4 linked regions of the Homo sapiens genome follow. The protein of the gene in region 1 purifies or fractionates together with the protein of each later gene. This does not show direct contact. Each region holds a gene or a part of one and is shown in the gene's direction. Other genes may lie near its edges.

What was found. The genes of interacting proteins can lie anywhere in the genome.
Region 2: the proteins of CENPE (region 1) and SYNPO purify together in Homo sapiens (affinity purification with mass spectrometry; one large-scale study listed by BioGRID and IntAct). This does not show direct contact.
Region 3: the proteins of CENPE (region 1) and ADARB2 purify together in Homo sapiens (affinity purification with mass spectrometry; one large-scale study listed by BioGRID and IntAct). This does not show direct contact.
Region 4: the proteins of CENPE (region 1) and TSN fractionate together in Homo sapiens (co-fractionation; one large-scale study listed by BioGRID). This does not show direct contact.

Annotation. Positions count from the first base shown.
Region 1 is NC_000004.12:103,142,124-103,147,178, reverse strand, and holds part of CENPE (centromere-associated protein E isoform 1 precursor), read left to right. Parts: intron 1-1,071; coding exon 1,072-1,350; intron 1,351-1,497; coding exon 1,498-1,656; intron 1,657-1,844; coding exon 1,845-2,129; intron 2,130-2,560; coding exon 2,561-2,848; intron 2,849-3,772; coding exon 3,773-3,931; intron 3,932-5,055. UniProt on the Homo sapiens protein: Microtubule plus-end-directed kinetochore motor which plays an important role in chromosome congression, microtubule-kinetochore conjugation and spindle assembly checkpoint activation.
Region 2 is NC_000005.10:150,642,883-150,647,159, forward strand, and holds part of SYNPO (synaptopodin), read left to right. Parts: intron 1-4,277. UniProt on the Homo sapiens protein: Actin-associated protein that may play a role in modulating actin-based shape and motility of dendritic spines and renal podocyte foot processes.
Region 3 is NC_000010.11:1,727,526-1,731,802, reverse strand, and holds part of ADARB2 (double-stranded RNA-specific editase B2), read left to right. Parts: intron 1-4,277.
Region 4 is NC_000002.12:121,761,374-121,765,650, forward strand, and holds part of TSN (translin), read left to right. Parts: intron 1-35; coding exon 36-151; intron 152-1,631; coding exon 1,632-1,711; intron 1,712-3,760; coding exon 3,761-3,994; 3' UTR 3,995-4,277. UniProt on the Homo sapiens protein: DNA-binding protein that specifically recognizes consensus sequences at the breakpoint junctions in chromosomal translocations, mostly involving immunoglobulin (Ig)/T-cell receptor gene segments.

The DNA of each region.
Region 1 (5,055 bases):
ATTGAAACAGAGAGAAGATGTTTCAGAGAAAAGAACTGTTTTCTTAAATATTCAAAAAATAATTTAGAAAAAATAATTCTAAATTACAAGAAAGGGTGAAACCAAATATGAGATTGTTTTATTTTCTTTTTTAAACCTGTTCCTTTAATGTTTCATAAAGCACTACTGTGCTTTCTCATTGTTTTAGTCAGAAATCTGGGAGCTATCCCTACTAATATGCCTCCTTCTCTGCTTATTCTGTAATCCAGTCACCAAATCTTATTGATTTGAGTGTGTATTTTAAAAGTCATCCTGCTTTTCTCTCCACACTGCCACCACCCTAATCCAAGTCAACATCATTTCTTTCCCTGGCTATCTGCAGTAGTCTCCTAACTGGTCTTCCCACACTCATTCTTAGACTTCTCTAATCCAGTTTCTATACTAAGCCTAAGTTATCCTTTCTTACATTCTTTTAATATCTTATTGCTACTTTTTAAATAAAGACCAGGATCCTTTATGTGGCCTATGAGGCCCTAGGTGCAGATCTTGCCGGTCTTATTTCAATTCATTCTTCTTCCTATTCTTTGTTCTCCAGCAACTCTCTTCCGCAGCTCATGGCTTTCAGATTCTCAGGTCTCTCTACCTGCAGTACCTCCATACTCCTTTTTGCCTAACTAATGCTCTTATCCTTCAGATCTCAGTTAAAGCTTTCTCCTCTAGGAATCCCTTCCTATCATTCACAATAGATTATATTTGACACTTGGGCCGTAGGAGAAGCCAGCATCTCTATTTGGTAAGATTCAACATCATATCTATCTTTGTCCTTGAAGTATAAGTCTCAAAAAGAGAGAGATCCTGTAAGTCTCATCATTTTGTCTCCAGCCTCGAATAAGATGCTGACAACACAGTGAGACCTCAATTTTTAAAAAGCATTAAATGCCTGAATAATGGAAGAGTGGGAGAATGGAGAGATTGCTCTGTAAATGAGGCACTGAATCCTGCCTTAATTGTTTTAGAAAGCATCCTGATTTATTTTCCCCTAAAACACAATATCTCTGGATATCAACTGTACTGTTTTATGATTCTCTTAAGATCCAGGAGTCTCAAAGCAAACAAGAACAGTCCTTAAATATGAAAGAAAAAGACAATGAAACTACCAAAATCGTGAGTGAGATGGAGCAATTCAAACCCAAAGATTCAGCACTACTAAGGATAGAAATAGAAATGCTCGGATTGTCCAAAAGACTTCAAGAAAGTCATGATGAAATGAAATCTGTAGCTAAGGAGAAAGATGACCTACAGAGGCTGCAAGAAGTTCTTCAATCTGAAAGTGACCAGCTCAAAGAAAACATAAAAGAAATTGTAGCTAAAGTAGGTTTCATCTTTCACCATGTTTTTAAAAAATATTTTGTAACCAAATATTATTATAAACCCTAAATATTTGGAAAGGGGAGTTAATTACAACAAAATAGTTATAATGTTTCTATAAATTTATTGGAATTTCCTCTAATAATAAAGCACCTGGAAACTGAAGAGGAACTTAAAGTTGCTCATTGTTGCCTGAAAGAACAAGAGGAAACTATTAATGAGTTAAGAGTGAATCTTTCAGAGAAGGAAACTGAAATATCAACCATTCAAAAGCAGTTAGAAGCAATCAATGATAAATTACAGAACAAGGTAAATTGGGGATGAAGAAACAGTGGGAGGAAATGGGTGGGTTTGGAGTAGCTAACTGAATTATGAAGACTACTATTTGGCATGCTTAATTGTTTTGGGAAGCAACCTTTTCCTCTTAAGTTGTGTATGTGTGTGTGTGTGTTTACATATTTTTATGACTATTAACTTATTTTATAATTATGTTTAAGATCCAAGAGATTTATGAGAAAGAGGAACAATTTAATATAAAACAAATTAGTGAGGTTCAGGAAAAAGTGAATGAACTGAAACAATTCAAGGAGCATCGCAAAGCCAAGGATTCAGCACTACAAAGTATAGAAAGTAAGATGCTCGAGTTGACCAACAGACTTCAAGAAAGTCAAGAAGAAATACAAATTATGATTAAGGAAAAAGAGGAAATGAAAAGAGTACAGGAGGCCCTTCAGATAGAGAGAGACCAACTGAAAGAAAACACTAAAGAAATTGTAGCTAAAGTAAGTTCCCATCTTATTTTTTTTTTTTTTGGATACAGAAATAGTGTTAAGGTGATAATGACGGTGTTCATGTTAAGTTTTATTAATTTTCCTCTAATCATAAAGGGACCGGAAATAAAAGAGGAATCAAAAACTGCTTATATTCAACTGAGTACCAGTAAACTGTTAGTAGACAGAATATTTCAGAGAAGACAGCTCAAGTAGCAAATATTCATTGGGATTTAGGAAATTCTGATGGTGAATTACAGGAAAAAGTGGGACTTGTTAAATTGGAAAATGACATCTAATTATTGTTACTCATATCCCTTATGAAAGAAAGTACTACATACATTAGATTACAATGTAAAAATGATTGCCTTATTTTAGGAACAGTTCTTCCTTTTCCTAAAAAAATTCTGCCTATGTTGTAACTTACTTTATAATTTTCTCAGATGAAAGAATCTCAAGAAAAAGAATATCAGTTTCTTAAGATGACAGCTGTCAATGAGACTCAGGAGAAAATGTGTGAAATAGAACACTTGAAGGAGCAATTTGAGACCCAGAAGTTAAACCTGGAAAACATAGAAACGGAGAATATAAGGTTGACTCAGATACTACATGAAAACCTTGAAGAAATGAGATCTGTAACAAAAGAAAGAGATGACCTTAGGAGTGTGGAGGAGACTCTCAAAGTAGAGAGAGACCAGCTCAAGGAAAACCTTAGAGAAACTATAACTAGAGTGAGTTACCATCTCTCTACACCTCTAGTAACTATGACATTGAGTCCTAAGAGAAAAATCTGCCATAGGGTTGGTGGGAGTATAAAATTGGTCCAGGCCGGGCGCGGTGGCTCGAGCCGGTAATCCCAGCACTTTGGGAGGCCAGGGCGGGCAGATCACGAGGTCAGGAGATCAAGACCATCCTGGCTAACATGGTGAAACGCCATCTCTACTAAAAACATAAAAAATTAGGCAGGCGTGGTGGTGGGCGCCTGTAGTCCCAGCTACTTGGGAGGCTGAGACAGGAGAATGGCGTGAACCCAGGAGGCGGAGGTTGCAGTGAGCCAAGATCGCACCACTGCACTCCAGCCTGGGCGACAGAGCAAGACTCCATCTCAAAAAGTAAAATAAAATAAAAAATAATAAAATAAGATAAAATTGGTCCAATATTGAGGAAAGTTGGTGAGGGTATATTTGGAAATACCTTCCAAATTTTTCCAAAGGTTTATTCGTTGATCCACAAGTCCAGTTGTAACTATCCTCCACACATTTGCACAACTGTATAAAGATATTTGTAGGATATTCTTTGCAACAAGTTGCAATAATGAAATAACACAAACAAAAACAGGGAAAATTCTAACCATCCATTGGTAAGGGACTGGTTAAATAAGTGCAGCACATTCACGTCATGGAATTCTATGCCACAAATAAAAAATGTGGTAGAGCTATAGTGCTGATTTGAAGGGTGAAGTGTCCTGTTAGGGAACAGGGTAAGTTCAGGAATAGTGTATCTAGAATGTATTGACATCTAAAAGTAGCTTAGAGGGTGAGAACTAGGAGGCCTCAGAAGAGGGTGGAAGATTTTTACCTCCTGCCCTATACCTTTCTATAGCATGTGGATGGTACTACTCTCAATGTATTATTTTTATTTTTCTATTGATAAAGGACCTAGAAAAACAAGAGGAGCTAAAAATTGTTCACATGCATCTGAAGGAGCACCAAGAAACTATTGATAAACTAAGAGGGATTGTTTCAGAGAAAACAAATGAAATATCAAATATGCAAAAGGACTTAGAACACTCAAATGATGCCTTAAAAGCACAGGTATTTTATTTTTAAGTTATCTCAGTTACTGAGAGTTTGAATCAAACTTTTTGTGTAATGAAACAAGATATGAATTACCCTAAAATTGAAGGCAAGTGAAGACTTACTTGCCTACTCAATTTAGAAACTATCATTGATCTTTTTATATCTACTGATAATCCTAACTTATTGTATGATTATCTCAAGATCCAAGAACTTCAGGAGAAAGAACATCAACTTCTTTTTTTTTTTTTTTTTTTTTTTTGAGACAGAGTCTCGCTCTGTCGCCTGGAGTGCAACGGCATGATCTCGGCTCACTGCAATGTCTGCCTCCCGGGTTCAAGCGATTCTCCTGCCTCAAGTCTCCCAAGTAACTAGGATTACAGATGCATGTCATCACACCCAGCTAATTTTTGTATTTTTAGTAGAGAGGAGGTTTCACCGTGTTGACCAGGGTGGTCTCGATCTCCTGACCTCATGATCCACCCGCCTCGGCCTCCCAAAGTGCTGGGATTACAGGCATGAGCCGCCAGGCCCAGCCTCAACTTCTTAAAGTAAAAAATGATCTTAGGGAAACTATGTATCAAACAGGTCAGTTAAAGAAGCAGTTAGAGGCCTGGAATGTAACTCTGGAAAGTGTAGAAACGCAGAAATTAAGATTGACTCAGAAGCTTCATGAAAACCTTCAGGATGTAAGATTTGTTACTAAGGAAAATGATGGCCTAAGAGGAGTAGAGGAAATCTTTAAAATGGAGCAAGACCAACTTAGGGAAGGCCTTAGAGAAATAGAAGCTAAAGTAAGCTCATTCCTCTCCCTGGCAATTCAATGTATTGTGTTCTTACAGCAATGAACCCTTCTTTGAACCAAGTACTACTGTTGGCAAGAATGAAATGATACAGCCTTTTAAGCAGATAATTTGGTACTGTTCTTGAAAAGTTCAAGTCTGCAATTATCATTTTCCTTACGGACTTTAGCCTACATATATACTGTTAAAGGAGTGTGTGTGTATATACAAACACAACGTATACATATGCCACAGGTTATTTATTGTAGTGATTTTAATTAAAAATCTGAAACAATCTAAATGTTCCTCAGAAGGAAACAGTAAATATGAACAATATATCGAAATACTATGCAACACTTA
Region 2 (4,277 bases), on another chromosome or scaffold:
AGGTGGTGGTGATGGGATCTTAGCGGCAGCCCAGGTTGTGCATGGAGCCTCACTGAGAGTCAGCTGACCTGGTCTTGGGCTCACATCCTCCTCTCTGACCTCTTCCTTGGCTGGGCCTCCCAGGCCAGCTTATTTCTAAAGGCCCTTCATATTCTGACATTTGAGGATTTTCTAAACCCATGGCCTTCTAGAGCCAGTAAGGAGAAAAGCAGAAAAATGCAGGGGCATTGAGAGGTCTGGAGTAATCAAACACTGAAGTGCTTTCTATGAGCCTTGCAAGGTGGGAACCGGCCAGCCAGGAGCCTGGTGCTCTCTGCAGTAACGTAGAGCCAGGTGTGAACAGAGCTCTACTCCTTCTGGCTCTGTGATCGTGGGCAGCTCACTTTACCTCTCTGAGCCGTAGATTTCTCATCAATAAAGTGTGCATAATAATAGTTTGTGATTTGTAGGTTTGTTTTGGAAATTAAATAATATGAGTAAAGTCTGTGTATAGGTGTACAGTAAGTGACCAATCAATATTAGCTACTATTGCTGCAACTGTGTCATAAGAAACACTGGCAGGACTAGAGATGTTTATCCTGACCCTGTCCCAAGGGGATCTGATGTATCTGCAAATCTCTGCAGGGCTGTCAGGCTGGAATGAAAGAGAAAACTTTTTGTTGTTGTTGTTGAGATGGAATGTCGCTCTGTTGCCCAGGCTGCAGTGCAGTGGCGTGATCTCGGCTCACCGCAACCTCTGCCTCCCTAGTTCAAGCGATTCTTTTGCCTCAGCCTCCCAAGTAGCTGGGATTACAGGCGCCCGCCACCACGCTTGGCTAATTTTTGTATTTTTAGTAGAGATGGGGTTTCACCATATTGGCCAGGCTGGTCTCGAACTCCTGACCTCGTGATCCACCTGCCTTGGCCCCCCAAAATGCTAGGATTACAGGCGCGAGCCACCGCGCCCGGCTGAGAAGACTTTTTCTCTGTGCAGCCTGGGGAGGCAGAACCACATCAAGAAAGCGGATGATGGCTGGACGTGGTGGCTCACGCCTGTAATCCCAGCACTTTGGGAGGCTGAGGTGGGTGGATCACTTGAGCTCAGGAGTTCAAGATCAGCCTGGGCAACATAGTGAAATCCTGTCTCTACAAAAAATACAAAAATTAGCCAGGCATAGTGGCATATGCCTATAGTCCCAGTTACTCAGGAGGCTGAGGTGGGAGGATTACTTGATCCTGGAAGGTTGAGGCTACAGTGAACCATGATGGTGCCACTGCCCTCCAGCGACAGAGCAAGACCCTGTCTCAGAAAAAAAAAAAAAAAAAAGTGATTGGAAGTGAATGTAAGGAGGAACTTTCTAGCTGAGGAATGTTAATTAGTGGAAGACACCTCCCGGGGGAGTGAGCTCGTCACCTGAGTATGTCAGCAGAGACTTGCACACTCAGCATGTTGTTTTGAAGATGCAAGAATTGTGTGGGAATTGGACTTGGTGACAGCCACCTCTGAGATTCCGAGGTTCTGTGTTTTGGGGCAGTAAGCTCTGCCTCCGTGTAGCTCTGGAATCTCCTGCTATTTGACCTTCAGTCAATCCCCTGTGCTAGAAGAGTATCTGACCTTTTCCAGGGAGTGGAATGGGGTGACCAATTGCCAGCTTATGCCAGGATAGCATGAGCCCTCTGTCTGTCCACCTGGGCTTCATGGCAGTCAGGCCTTGGCATTTTCATGATCTCTTTGTGGCCTCCCAACACTCATGTCAAGTTAAGGAGACTGTGGCTCTGAGAGGTACAGTAACTTGCCAAGGTCACACGGCTAGCAAATGGCAGAGCTTGGATTCAGGCCAGGAGGCCTGGTTTCTAAGCAGAGCAGGGGAGACAGACACAGCATGAGCTGAGCAACCTCTCAGAGCCCTCCAGTGTGGCTGGCACCCCATCCCTTAGGCTCCTCCCAGGGGAGCAGCCTGGCTAATAGATGGCTAATAGACATCTTTAATAGATAGGGTGATCCAGGCAGGAGAAGAGTCCTACTCGGGGGGAGTAATATCATGGGTGGGTGGGATAGGCTGTGTGCTTTCACTGTTTCTAATAGGTTAGGGGAAAACCAGGTTCGATGGAGGAGGGAAGAAGGAGGTTGGGGCCAGAAAACCTGTGGCTGCCCCAGTGGAGCTGCTGTGACGCTGCTGGTCACAGCTTCTTTGCTCTGTGTGGGCCTCCCTGCGGGTCCCATGTGGGGTCACCCGGCTCTACCCTGGGCTACTCTCTGGATCTCTGTTTCCCACCTATAAAACAGGGTGGTGATGAAATACCTCCTCTGTCAGAATTCTTCCAGCTCTGAGAGTCCATGAATTCAGAGCCTCGCTGGCAAGATGCCTGGAAAGACTGTCCCTGGAGACAGACTCAGCATGCCATGGCCAGTGCTAATGAGGGCAAGGGAGGGGAGGGCAGGGTCAGATTCCTCAAGAACTAATTAGCTTCCCACAGTAGGGAGGAGAGGGGCAATGGAGGGAGGAATTTTCTTAGCCACTGATGTTGCTGGTCACAGGCTGATCCATCCACCTGTCTGTCAATGCATTTGTTCATGCAGCATTTGTTCATTTATTATTCAACAATTATAAATTGAGCATCAACTGTGTGCCAGCTGGCCACTGGGGATAGAAAGAGAAATGGTTGCCTATGGTGATCTTATAGATTAATAGGGGACTGAACTCAGCCTGATCTCAGGACCTCAAATCCCAGACTGAACCCCGACCCATGATGACCTTGTTCCTGCCCCTTATGTCCCAAAGAGACCTTTTGGGATGAGTAGACCACTTGAGCATGGACTAGAGACCCCAGAAAGAACAGTTCTGACTCCAGCTTTGTCACCCTTGGCTTTGCAACCTTGGGGCAGTTCCTTATATATCTCTGAACCTCCGTTTCTTCTTCTGTAAAACACAGGCAAGCAATGCTTGTCTCATTGTGGTCTTGTGCAGATAAAATAAAAGAATGCAATGTTCTACAGTAGTCATTGGTGAAACTAGCTCAATTTGTTACTTTTCTAGTGTTAAAAGATGTGAATTTTAAAATGAGTATTTAAGTAAAACTAGGAAGAAATCCTGGGAGGAGATAGAAGAAACTGATTGTGATACAGAGTAATCAGGGATGGGGTGACACTTTTTACTGTATACCTTTTTATGTTTTAATTTTTAGGGCCAGGTATAGTGGCTCATGCCTATAATCTCAGCATTTTAGGAAGCCAAGGCCAGAGTATCACTTGGGCCCAGGAGTTTGAGACCAGCCTGGGCAACACAGGGAGACCCCTTCTCTACAAAAAATACAAAAAAAAAAAAAAATTGGCTAAGTGTGGTGGCGCACACCGATAGTCCAGATATTTGGGAGGCCGAGGTGGGAGGATGACTTGAGCCCAGGAGGTTGAGGCTGCAGTGAGCTATGATGGTGCCACTGCATGCCAGCCTGGGCAACAGAGCAAGACCCTGTCTCAGAAAAGTAAAAATAAAATAAAAATGAATGAATAAATAAATTTTTAGACTATGTGAATGTATTACCTACCCTAAAAAGGGGAAATATTAGTGGCGTCTCTTTATAAAATCAAAGCACATGCCTGTAATCCCAGCACTTTGAGAGACTGAGGTGGGCGGATCACTTGCGCCCACCTGAGTTTGAGACCAGCCTAAGCAACATGGTGAAACCCTGTCTCTACAAAAAAAAATACAAAAATTAGCTGAGCATGGTGGCATACATCTGTAGTCCCAGCTACTTGGGGAGCTGAGGCAGGAGAATCACTTGATCCCAGGATGTCGAGGCTGCAATGAGCTGAGATCTCATCATTGCACTCCAGCCTGGGTGACAGAGTAAGGTACTGTCTCAAAAAAATAAATAAATACAAATTAAAAAAAGCAGACGGTGGTTTATTAAAACATTTTTGTTTAAAAAAATTAGAGCACATTCCTATGCTATAATTCTGAAAGTATAAAGGGCCCTAAGGAAGGCACACAGAAAATATTCTGGGGGTTCATTTGTGCATTCAGCAATATCTACCGAGTGCCACTGTATGACAGGTGCTGTTCTAGGGGCTGTTGTTAGAGTGATAAACAAGTCAGGTGGCCGGGCACGGTGGCTCACGCCTGTAATCCCAGCACTTTGGGAGGCCGAGGCGGGTGGATCACCTGAGGTCAGGAGTTCGAGACCAGCCTGGCCTACATGGTGAAACCCCATCTCTACTAAAAATACAAAAATTAGCCGGGCATGGTGGCACATGCCTGTAGTCCCAGCTACTCGGGAGGCTGAGGCAGGAGAATCAC
Region 3 (4,277 bases), on another chromosome or scaffold:
GTTGATGCCGTCTCTGTGGTTAGGATAGCTCAAGAAAAGCAGCAGGGGCTGCACTCTGCCTGGTGTGTGGCCGAGAACCTGATTCGTGTTGTTAAGTATTTGCAAATAGAATGAAACTAAATTAACCTCTATCTGTACAATTAAAAGTTTTTTCTCCACTCAGAGAAACAGAGGCTGCTTAATACTTGATTTTTCAAAGGCGATTGTTTATTCCTAGCTTTTGATATAACTCAATTAAGAACATACCAATATCAAATAGAGACATTACATTCAAAAAGAGAAGAAACAATGCTTATAAAATTTTTGGTTCACAGGGACAGCTAACGTGCTCTGGTGAGACTTTAGAAAACAGGAAGGGAAGGGAACATTGAGAAATTTAGGACCTTGGAGCCAGAACTCCTCTCTGCTTGCATATGTTACTGTCTTAGTATCAAGACATCCCTGTTCAGCAATTAAAATTGGGCTTTTATTTACTCGTTTATTTGATTTAAAAGGAATGGAGGACGGGGCTATTTTATCTGATTGCTTGCCTGACATTGTTTAAGCAACGCCCTAGCAAACAGGGCTCGTAGGCCCTGAATCTCCATCTGCAAGTTTATGAGTGAATCCATTTTCCCGGAAACCACATCCAAATATTAGCAACTTAGAAACTGACATGTTTGCTTTTCAAGAGATCCACAATCTCCCTCCAGCCCCTAAAATTTGGTCATTTGCAAAGATAGCAGACTTTTCTGAAGAACGATCTATATTTGGAAATAAAGAGTTAATCTGAATTTCCCAGGCCCTCCATATGCACTGTGGATATTTAATCACCTTTTATTCTAGTCATAGGTATTGAGTAGGAAGAGCAGCAAAATAATTACATTGTATTATTTTATTGATGGTGAATGAATACAGTTAGTATCTAGTTTCTGGCAGGAAAATGTCTGGTAAGTCCTCTTTGGGTTATAAAATACATATATATTGGAATTTAGTATCATCTGTTTTAAATTACAAAAATGATCAATAGTTAACGTTCAGTTTTTTAATCTGAAAACATAGCAGAACAGATCATCTAAATTCCATATTTATATTAAGGAGGGGATTTTATACTTAAGAAATAGTGTCCAATAAATCATGCATTCCTATAAAAAAAGAAGAGTAACATGTGTGCTTAAGTTCGAAGAGAAAGATGATATAAATGCTCAGGTGACTTAGATTTTAAGGAAATTTATTTCAACTCTCTAAGAGGTGAAATTTTTGAAAGTTTTTTCAGCTGTGTACACTTAAAATTGTGGCATTCAGGTGGCTTCGTTGAGCTGCTTCCAAGGCAGAGGGCAACTAGGACCCTCGTGTTTGTGTAACTAAACAGCTAATTCAGTTCTGATGCAAATGGTCACACCAGCTGAAGCCTCACGCGGAAGAGGGCCACACTGTGTACAAGCAAAATCTCCCACGGATCAGAAAGAGAAACCCAGCAGTGGGGATGCAAAGGTGAAAGGGGGCAGTTATTATTTTTGGTGTTAAGTACCGTCTCACTCCTACGGATCTCTAACTCAAATCTGGCCACGTTCATCACTGCACGTCTTTTTAACGGTGCCAGCAACAGATCACTCATTTGCAAAACAGATCCAGGTTTCTCTCTGTGGCTGTTGTTTTGCCATTTGGATCATAAATAAAATGAACATTGCTCAGAATCTATTTGTAAACCCACTTCTCTAGGGCCTCTAATAGATGGAGTGAATCTTATGCCCAAATGATAGCTCAACACCTTCAGGTGATTTGCACATAATGGAAAGAATTCCTTTAAACCCCTTAACCAGGATGTGCTTTGGAGAATTTATCGATTTAATTAATCTGTGCTGCTCCATTTATTTGAGATGAAGTCTTTGATTCTTGTTTCCCACTGCCGACAGACAGAAGCTCTGCCTCATCATTTCCCTAATGTCTGATGTGATTTCTCAAATACGTCTTCTCAAAGGTGGTATTAAAATAGGATGGGGAGCTCAGTTCTCAGAAACTGGAGCCTCCTCCTACCTGAAAATGCTAACCCAAGTCAAATCTCTTCTTATGGCTAAAAACAAACGAGTAGAGGGTCCTTACTGTTGCTAAGAAGCAGGACTTGAGACCCATAGCAGGAGAGCTCAAAGCATATACCTAGGGCGCTGATAATGATTAAACAAAAAGCAGGTTTTATTAGTTTAAGTCCACCGGAAGTATAAAAATGTCCTCTCTTTAAAATAATTGCAATATTTCCTAAAAGTGTAATTGCATTTGGGAAAAAAATGCAATTTAATAAACATGACAGAAACATCAGTAGAATAGATTCTGACCTCCTCCAAACCCCAAGTCTGGCTGGGTTCACTCATCCCTGTCTGGAGCAGATGCTGTGCTTGCATTGGGCTTATAGCTGTGAAAATAGCCACATTCTTTAAGGAAGTACCTGCCCTCTTTGTGTTAGACTGTGTTCAGGACTGAGGACAGAAATGTAAAGTATATACAAGCTCAGACACTATCTGATGTGTACAATTAAAAAGGACATTGTTTTTATAAATTTGGGGATCTACAAATGATTTGTTTTATTAAAAAACAATACCTTTTACTATTCCTTAGGTAAAGAAAAACATAGGTAGCCTAATTTAACCACAGACACAAAGATATTTTATTCATGCTTCAATTCTAAATGTTACTACTACAGATAACCTTTTTAAAGGACTATCCAGGCTCTCAAAGAATTCTAACAGAGTTTTCAATCCAAAATACATGGCTCAAGGAGAAATTTTGAAAATTCTCAGAATTCTATGCCAATTTTTTCTGAAGAAGAAATAATTTTGAGATAAACATCATTGTTGGAGTTCTAGGAAAAGTACTAGGATAAGCAGTAGCTTTTGAAAAAACTCCAAGACAGTAGCATGAGGAATGTAGAAACTTTGACAGCCCTGAGTGATACTGAACTGAGAGCAAAAGCTGTTGCCTCTAGAAGTATAATAGCTTTGATGTGTAGCAAAGCATTATTCCAACATCCTTATACTGTTTCACTCTCAGGAACTAAAGATGGGTATATATTCAGCACTGACTGACCTGCAGGGAAATATTTATTAGCCATTTAGGAAGTTAAGGTTCTTTGTTTTTAAGTATAACAAATGTGAGAGTTCATATAATTTTATGTAATCACCTGAGTTTTTAATCAAATTTTTGCTTCAGGGAAGTTAAATCATGACAGGGGCTCTTGTATGTGGGTAATGAATAGAAGGCATGCCGTTAACATGTGCACTTGTGTGTTTGTGCAGATGTCTAATATATGCACACGACGTAGAGGGATGACAGACTCAAGAGGTAAAGCACAAAAGCGTTTATTCAAATAGAGAAAGTTGAAATATTAAAAGACTCCCCAGCTCTAGAACAGCAGCAGTCTAATATAAACATTACAAAAATCATGTAGAGAAAGAAATCTTCACTAAACCTCTGAGAGCACAAATTCTTTGGGAGGCAATGAAAAAGAATGTTGGTTTGTGACTGTGTTTTAGAGTATGGAGAGAAACACTAATTGCTTAATTGTAAAAATTGCAAAACATCATTGTTTAAAGTCTCCCTTTGTGCATATTTTACACCAACTGAAATAAATCTTTTTGTCATTGCCACTAATAAAAAAAATCTATCTTCTTACATCATAAAAGAGAAACAACAACCACATTGGTGTGAAGGAAGGGATTTTAATGGAAAGAGAGACAAAGAATAACTTCCAAGTCTCTTCCTGTGCCTGATTAAAGTTCATCTTTCTTGCATTTTGCTTTATGTGGCTACCAATACAGAAAGAACACTTGATTTTAAAGTATGGTGCGTGCTATCCAATTCTGCTCTGTTTGCAATTTTGCCTTAAACATTATATGTGTCTTTAGACAAAAACTGTATTGGGCATGAGTCTTATTTATTTATTTATTCATGTGTAAATCTATCTCCAGTGCCTACCGTGAGACAGGCAAAGAGTGAGGCATCACAATGACATGAGCAAAAGGAGTGGACGCGGCCCTTCCTCCTGAGCTTCTATTGTTTATGGAGATACAGAGGCACACACATGAAATCCGAACAGGGAACAAAAATAACCTTCCGTGATCTCAACACTATATATATATATAAATTATCATCAGATGGGCTTACAAAAATAGATTTCTATTGTATTTCCTTTATTATATCAAATGAAAGTTCTTTGTAAAACTAAACCGTTAAAATGTAAACCCCTTTAAGTTTGAACATTTCTATTCTTTCTACAATATCAAAACATAATAGCTACTCAATTA
Region 4 (4,277 bases), on another chromosome or scaffold:
AACCTTGGAGGCTAAATGTGCTTATTTTCATGCAGATTTCATGAGCACTGGAGGTTTGTGTTGCAGCGCTTGGTCTTCTTGGCAGCATTTGTTGTGTATTTGGAAACAGAAACACTAGTGACTCGAGAAGCAGTTACAGAAATTCTTGGCAGTAAGTGTCTTTATTAGTGGGATCTGCAGAATCAGGCATGGTTGCTTACTTTTTGGTGGAAAGGGTGGTTGTACTTTGTTTATTAAAACAAACAAGAATTAACTAAAAACCACTTATAGTTGTAGCTTGGTATCTGAGGATGATGCTTCCAGAGCTCTTCCAATACCCAAATCTGAGGATGTTCAAGTCCCTTATATAACTGGTGTAGTATTTGCATATAACCTATACACATTCTCCCACATACTTTAAATCATCTCTAGATTTCTTAAAATATCTAATACAGTATAAGTGCTATGTAAATATTTTTTTTTTTTTGAGACAGAGTCTCTGTCGCCCAGGCTGGAGTGCAGTGGTGCAATCTCCGCTCACTGCAACCTCCACCTCCCAGGTTCAAGTGATTCTCCTGCCTCAGCCTCCCGAGTAGCTGGGATTACAGGTGCCTGCCACTATGCCCAGCTAATTTTTTGTATTTTTTTTTTTTTTCCGAAATGGAGTTTTGCTCTTGTTGCCCAGGCTGTAGTGCAATGACGCAATCTCAGCTCACCACAACCTCCACCTCCTGGGTTCAAGCATTTCTCCTACCTCAGCCTCCTGAGTAGCTGGAATTACAGGCATGCACCACCACACCCGGCTAATTTTGTATTTTTAGTAGAGATGAGGTTTCTCCATGTTGGTCGGGCTAGTCTTGAACTCCTGACCTCAGGTGATCCGCCTGCCTCAGCCTCCCAAAGTGCTGGGATTACAGGCGTGAGTGACCGCACTCAGCCAATTTTTTGTATTTTTTTAGTAGAAACAGGGTTTCACCATGTTGGCCAGGCTGGTCTTGAACTCCTGACCTCGTGATTTGCCCGCCTTGGCCTCCCAAAGTGCTGGGATTACAGGCATGAGCCACCACGCCTGGCCTTTTCCCAAATATTTTCTATCCATAGTTGGTTAGCGCAGAGGGCCGACTCTACCTGGAAATGTAAAAGCTAAAAATAACAATGGCAAACACATTTGCACTTGCTTTAGTTTTTAAAATTGAATTTTTAAAAATTTCAAGCCTACAGAAAAATTGAAAGAATAGTACAATGAATACCTGTTTACATGCCACTTAGATTTACCACTTGTTAACATTTTGCTACATCTGCTTAATCTTCTCATTTTGTGTGTGTCTTTGTCAGCCATTTGAAAGTTGCAAATATCGTAACTCCTTTCTGAAATGCTTTATCATGTGCTTTCTAACAAGAAGTATATTCTGTGACACAACTAGATACTGTTTTTGATAGTATTTTTGAGGGAAGACTGAATTGAATTTTGCTTAAGAACTCAAAAAATCCATAGTGAGGTCTAGTTGCCAAGGTTGTGAATATATTAAAAAGCCAGTTTTTAAAAGATTCATCCTTTCTTCACTTACTTTGGGAGAAATTATGTGTATATTTTTATATTCTGAGGCTTAACTTGCATTCACAGCATGACTTTATTTTCATGTGTTTTTTAGTTGAGCCAGATCGGGAGAAAGGATTTCATCTGGATGTAGAAGATTATCTCTCAGGAGTTCTAATTCTTGCCAGTGAACTGGTAAGCTCAGTAACTTGCTGGTTGCTTTTTTGATCTTTCTGCTTCACTGTCAGTTTTTTTTTTTTTTTTTTTTTTTGAGACAGAGTCCCGCTCTGTCGCCTAGGCTGGAGTGCAGTGGCGCAATCTCGGCTCACTGCAAGCTCCGCCTCCCGAGTTCATGCCATTCTCCTGCCTCAGCCTCCTGAGTAGCTGGGACTACAGGCGCCCGCCACCACACCCGGCTAATTTTTTTTTGTATTTTTAGTAGAGACGGGGTTTCACCGTGTTAGCCAGGATGGTCTCGATCTCCTGACCTCGTGATCCGCCCACCTTGGCCTCCCAGAGTGCTGGGATTATAGGCGTGAGCCACTGTGCCTGGCCCACTGTCTGTTTTTAAAATGGGTACCAAAATTCAGAACGTCTTAATTCTTTTCTAAGCCATCTCTCGGTCACCAGGTAGTCACTGACTGGCACTGTATGTGTTACAATTTACTAGGCATCAGAGAAAAGCCAGATCAAATGATGAGTGCATACTTACTGAGTTAAGAATTTTTAACCGATGATAAGACCTCTTCCTTTTAGGGTAGTGGCAAAACATTTATTCCTGGTAACTGTTAATCCATGTAATTGTTTTGGACACTCATTTGTCTATATAACTAAGTTATTCTTATCCTTTATTCCTTTAACCACTATCTAGGGAAATTGCCCTGTAAAAGTCTAAAGAAAAAAAAAGCTGTCAGTAGCAAAATTGAGTAGTTGTGATAGAGACTGTGCCAGTCTGCAGAGGTGAAAATATTTACTATCTGGCTCGTTAAGAAAAAGTTTGCTTGTCCTTGCTCCAGAGGAAAGCAGTCCAGGGCTGGTCTGATGATTCCTTGATCTTTGGCCCTAGGTTCTTCTAGCTTCAGCTTCTTTCTTATGTTCCAGAACTGTTGCTCTAGTCACATCTTCACTCTAGCCAGCAGTAGGAGGAAATAGGGAAAATGGTATGCCCTCCCGCTTTAAGGACATTTCTTTGAAGTTGTACACACAACTTCTGTTAACATTCTGGTGCCTTGCCTGCAGGGAGGCAGAAATGGAGTCTATTGGAGTGGGTATGTGTGCATTGAAAACCTGAGGAAGATGGTGAGAATGGATGATGGGGTCCACTTGTAGGCTGTACCACTTGTCTGGCTTGTTGGAGACACCTGACCAGTAAACAGGAAGCATCTTGTTAGTATTAGTTAAGTGTAAGGTGTCTTTAGGACCATACATGTTGGGGCCGGGCACAGTCGCTTACGCTTGTAATGCTGGCAGTTTTGGAGACCAAGGTGGGAGGATCCCTTGAGGCCAGGAGTTCCACACCAGCCTAAGCAACAAAGCAAGACCCCTTCTCTATATTAAAAACAAACAAACAAACAAAAAACCCGTATGTTGACAGTGCACTAAAGGGGTAAGCCTGGAAAAGTGGAGAGGATTTTACAGAAAGGGGAATCTTTTTTATTATTTTAATATATTTTTTAAAGCCAGTCAAATGGAGCAGTAGGGGGTTGTATACTGACACCGAGAAGGGGAGTCTTGGGTTGGGTCTTGAAATCAATGTTAGTTCTCCTTCAAGACAGGGTTACACTAACATAATTTTAGATTCTTATCCCAAGTCTGCCTTACTTGATTCTAGGTGACTGGAGTTGCAGCTTAGTAGGTGGGCTCTAGAAATGTGATCATTTGGCCAAGGTTGGAAGAGGTAGTGGAGCTGCTGTGATTATTTTGTCGTTTCTTTCTTCGATATGATAGCAGATGAGCTGTAAAGATGCTTGTGTAATGTAACACTTTATTATGCAATAGCCAGTTTAAGAAATTAGAGAAATTTTAGATGTTAGTAATGTTAAATTTTACTTGGCAGAACTGGTCTCATTTTCAGTGGGATTCTTTTCAGAGAAGCTCCTGTCTTGTCTGTACTTGTGTGTACCCTGAGATAGAAGATCAGCGTGGCTGTCTAGGCTTGCGGTTCTTCTGGTTGTGATTCAGAGGAAGATGCGCTGAGAAGGAGCCATGTTGTAACAAGCCCCTGTTTTCTCTTTCCTGGTACAGTCGAGGCTGTCTGTCAACAGCGTGACTGCTGGAGACTACTCCCGACCCCTCCACATCTCCACCTTCATCAATGAGCTGGATTCCGGTTTTCGCCTTCTCAACCTGAAAAATGACTCCCTGAGGAAGCGCTACGACGGATTGAAATATGACGTGAAGAAAGTAGAGGAAGTGGTCTATGATCTCTCCATCCGGGGCTTTAATAAGGAGACGGCAGCAGCTTGTGTTGAAAAATAGGAGGCTCTCCTTGCTCCTGGCCTTGCTGACCTCAGCGGTTGCCAGGAAGGGGTGAGCACAGAGTGCCTCTTACGGTAGTTAGGATGCTCAGTTGCTAAACACTGCGCTTTATTTTCTTAACCAGTTGTGGTGTGAGTATCAGAATTGAAACACTTTTTTGGGGGTAAAAAATATAGCCTTTACATGGACAGAATTTTTTTTGTTGTTTCAGTGAATATGCCTGTAATTCAGTGTATTTCAGTTCCGTCAGAAAGTGTAAATGTTAGTTTCTTGGTAAAGTCCT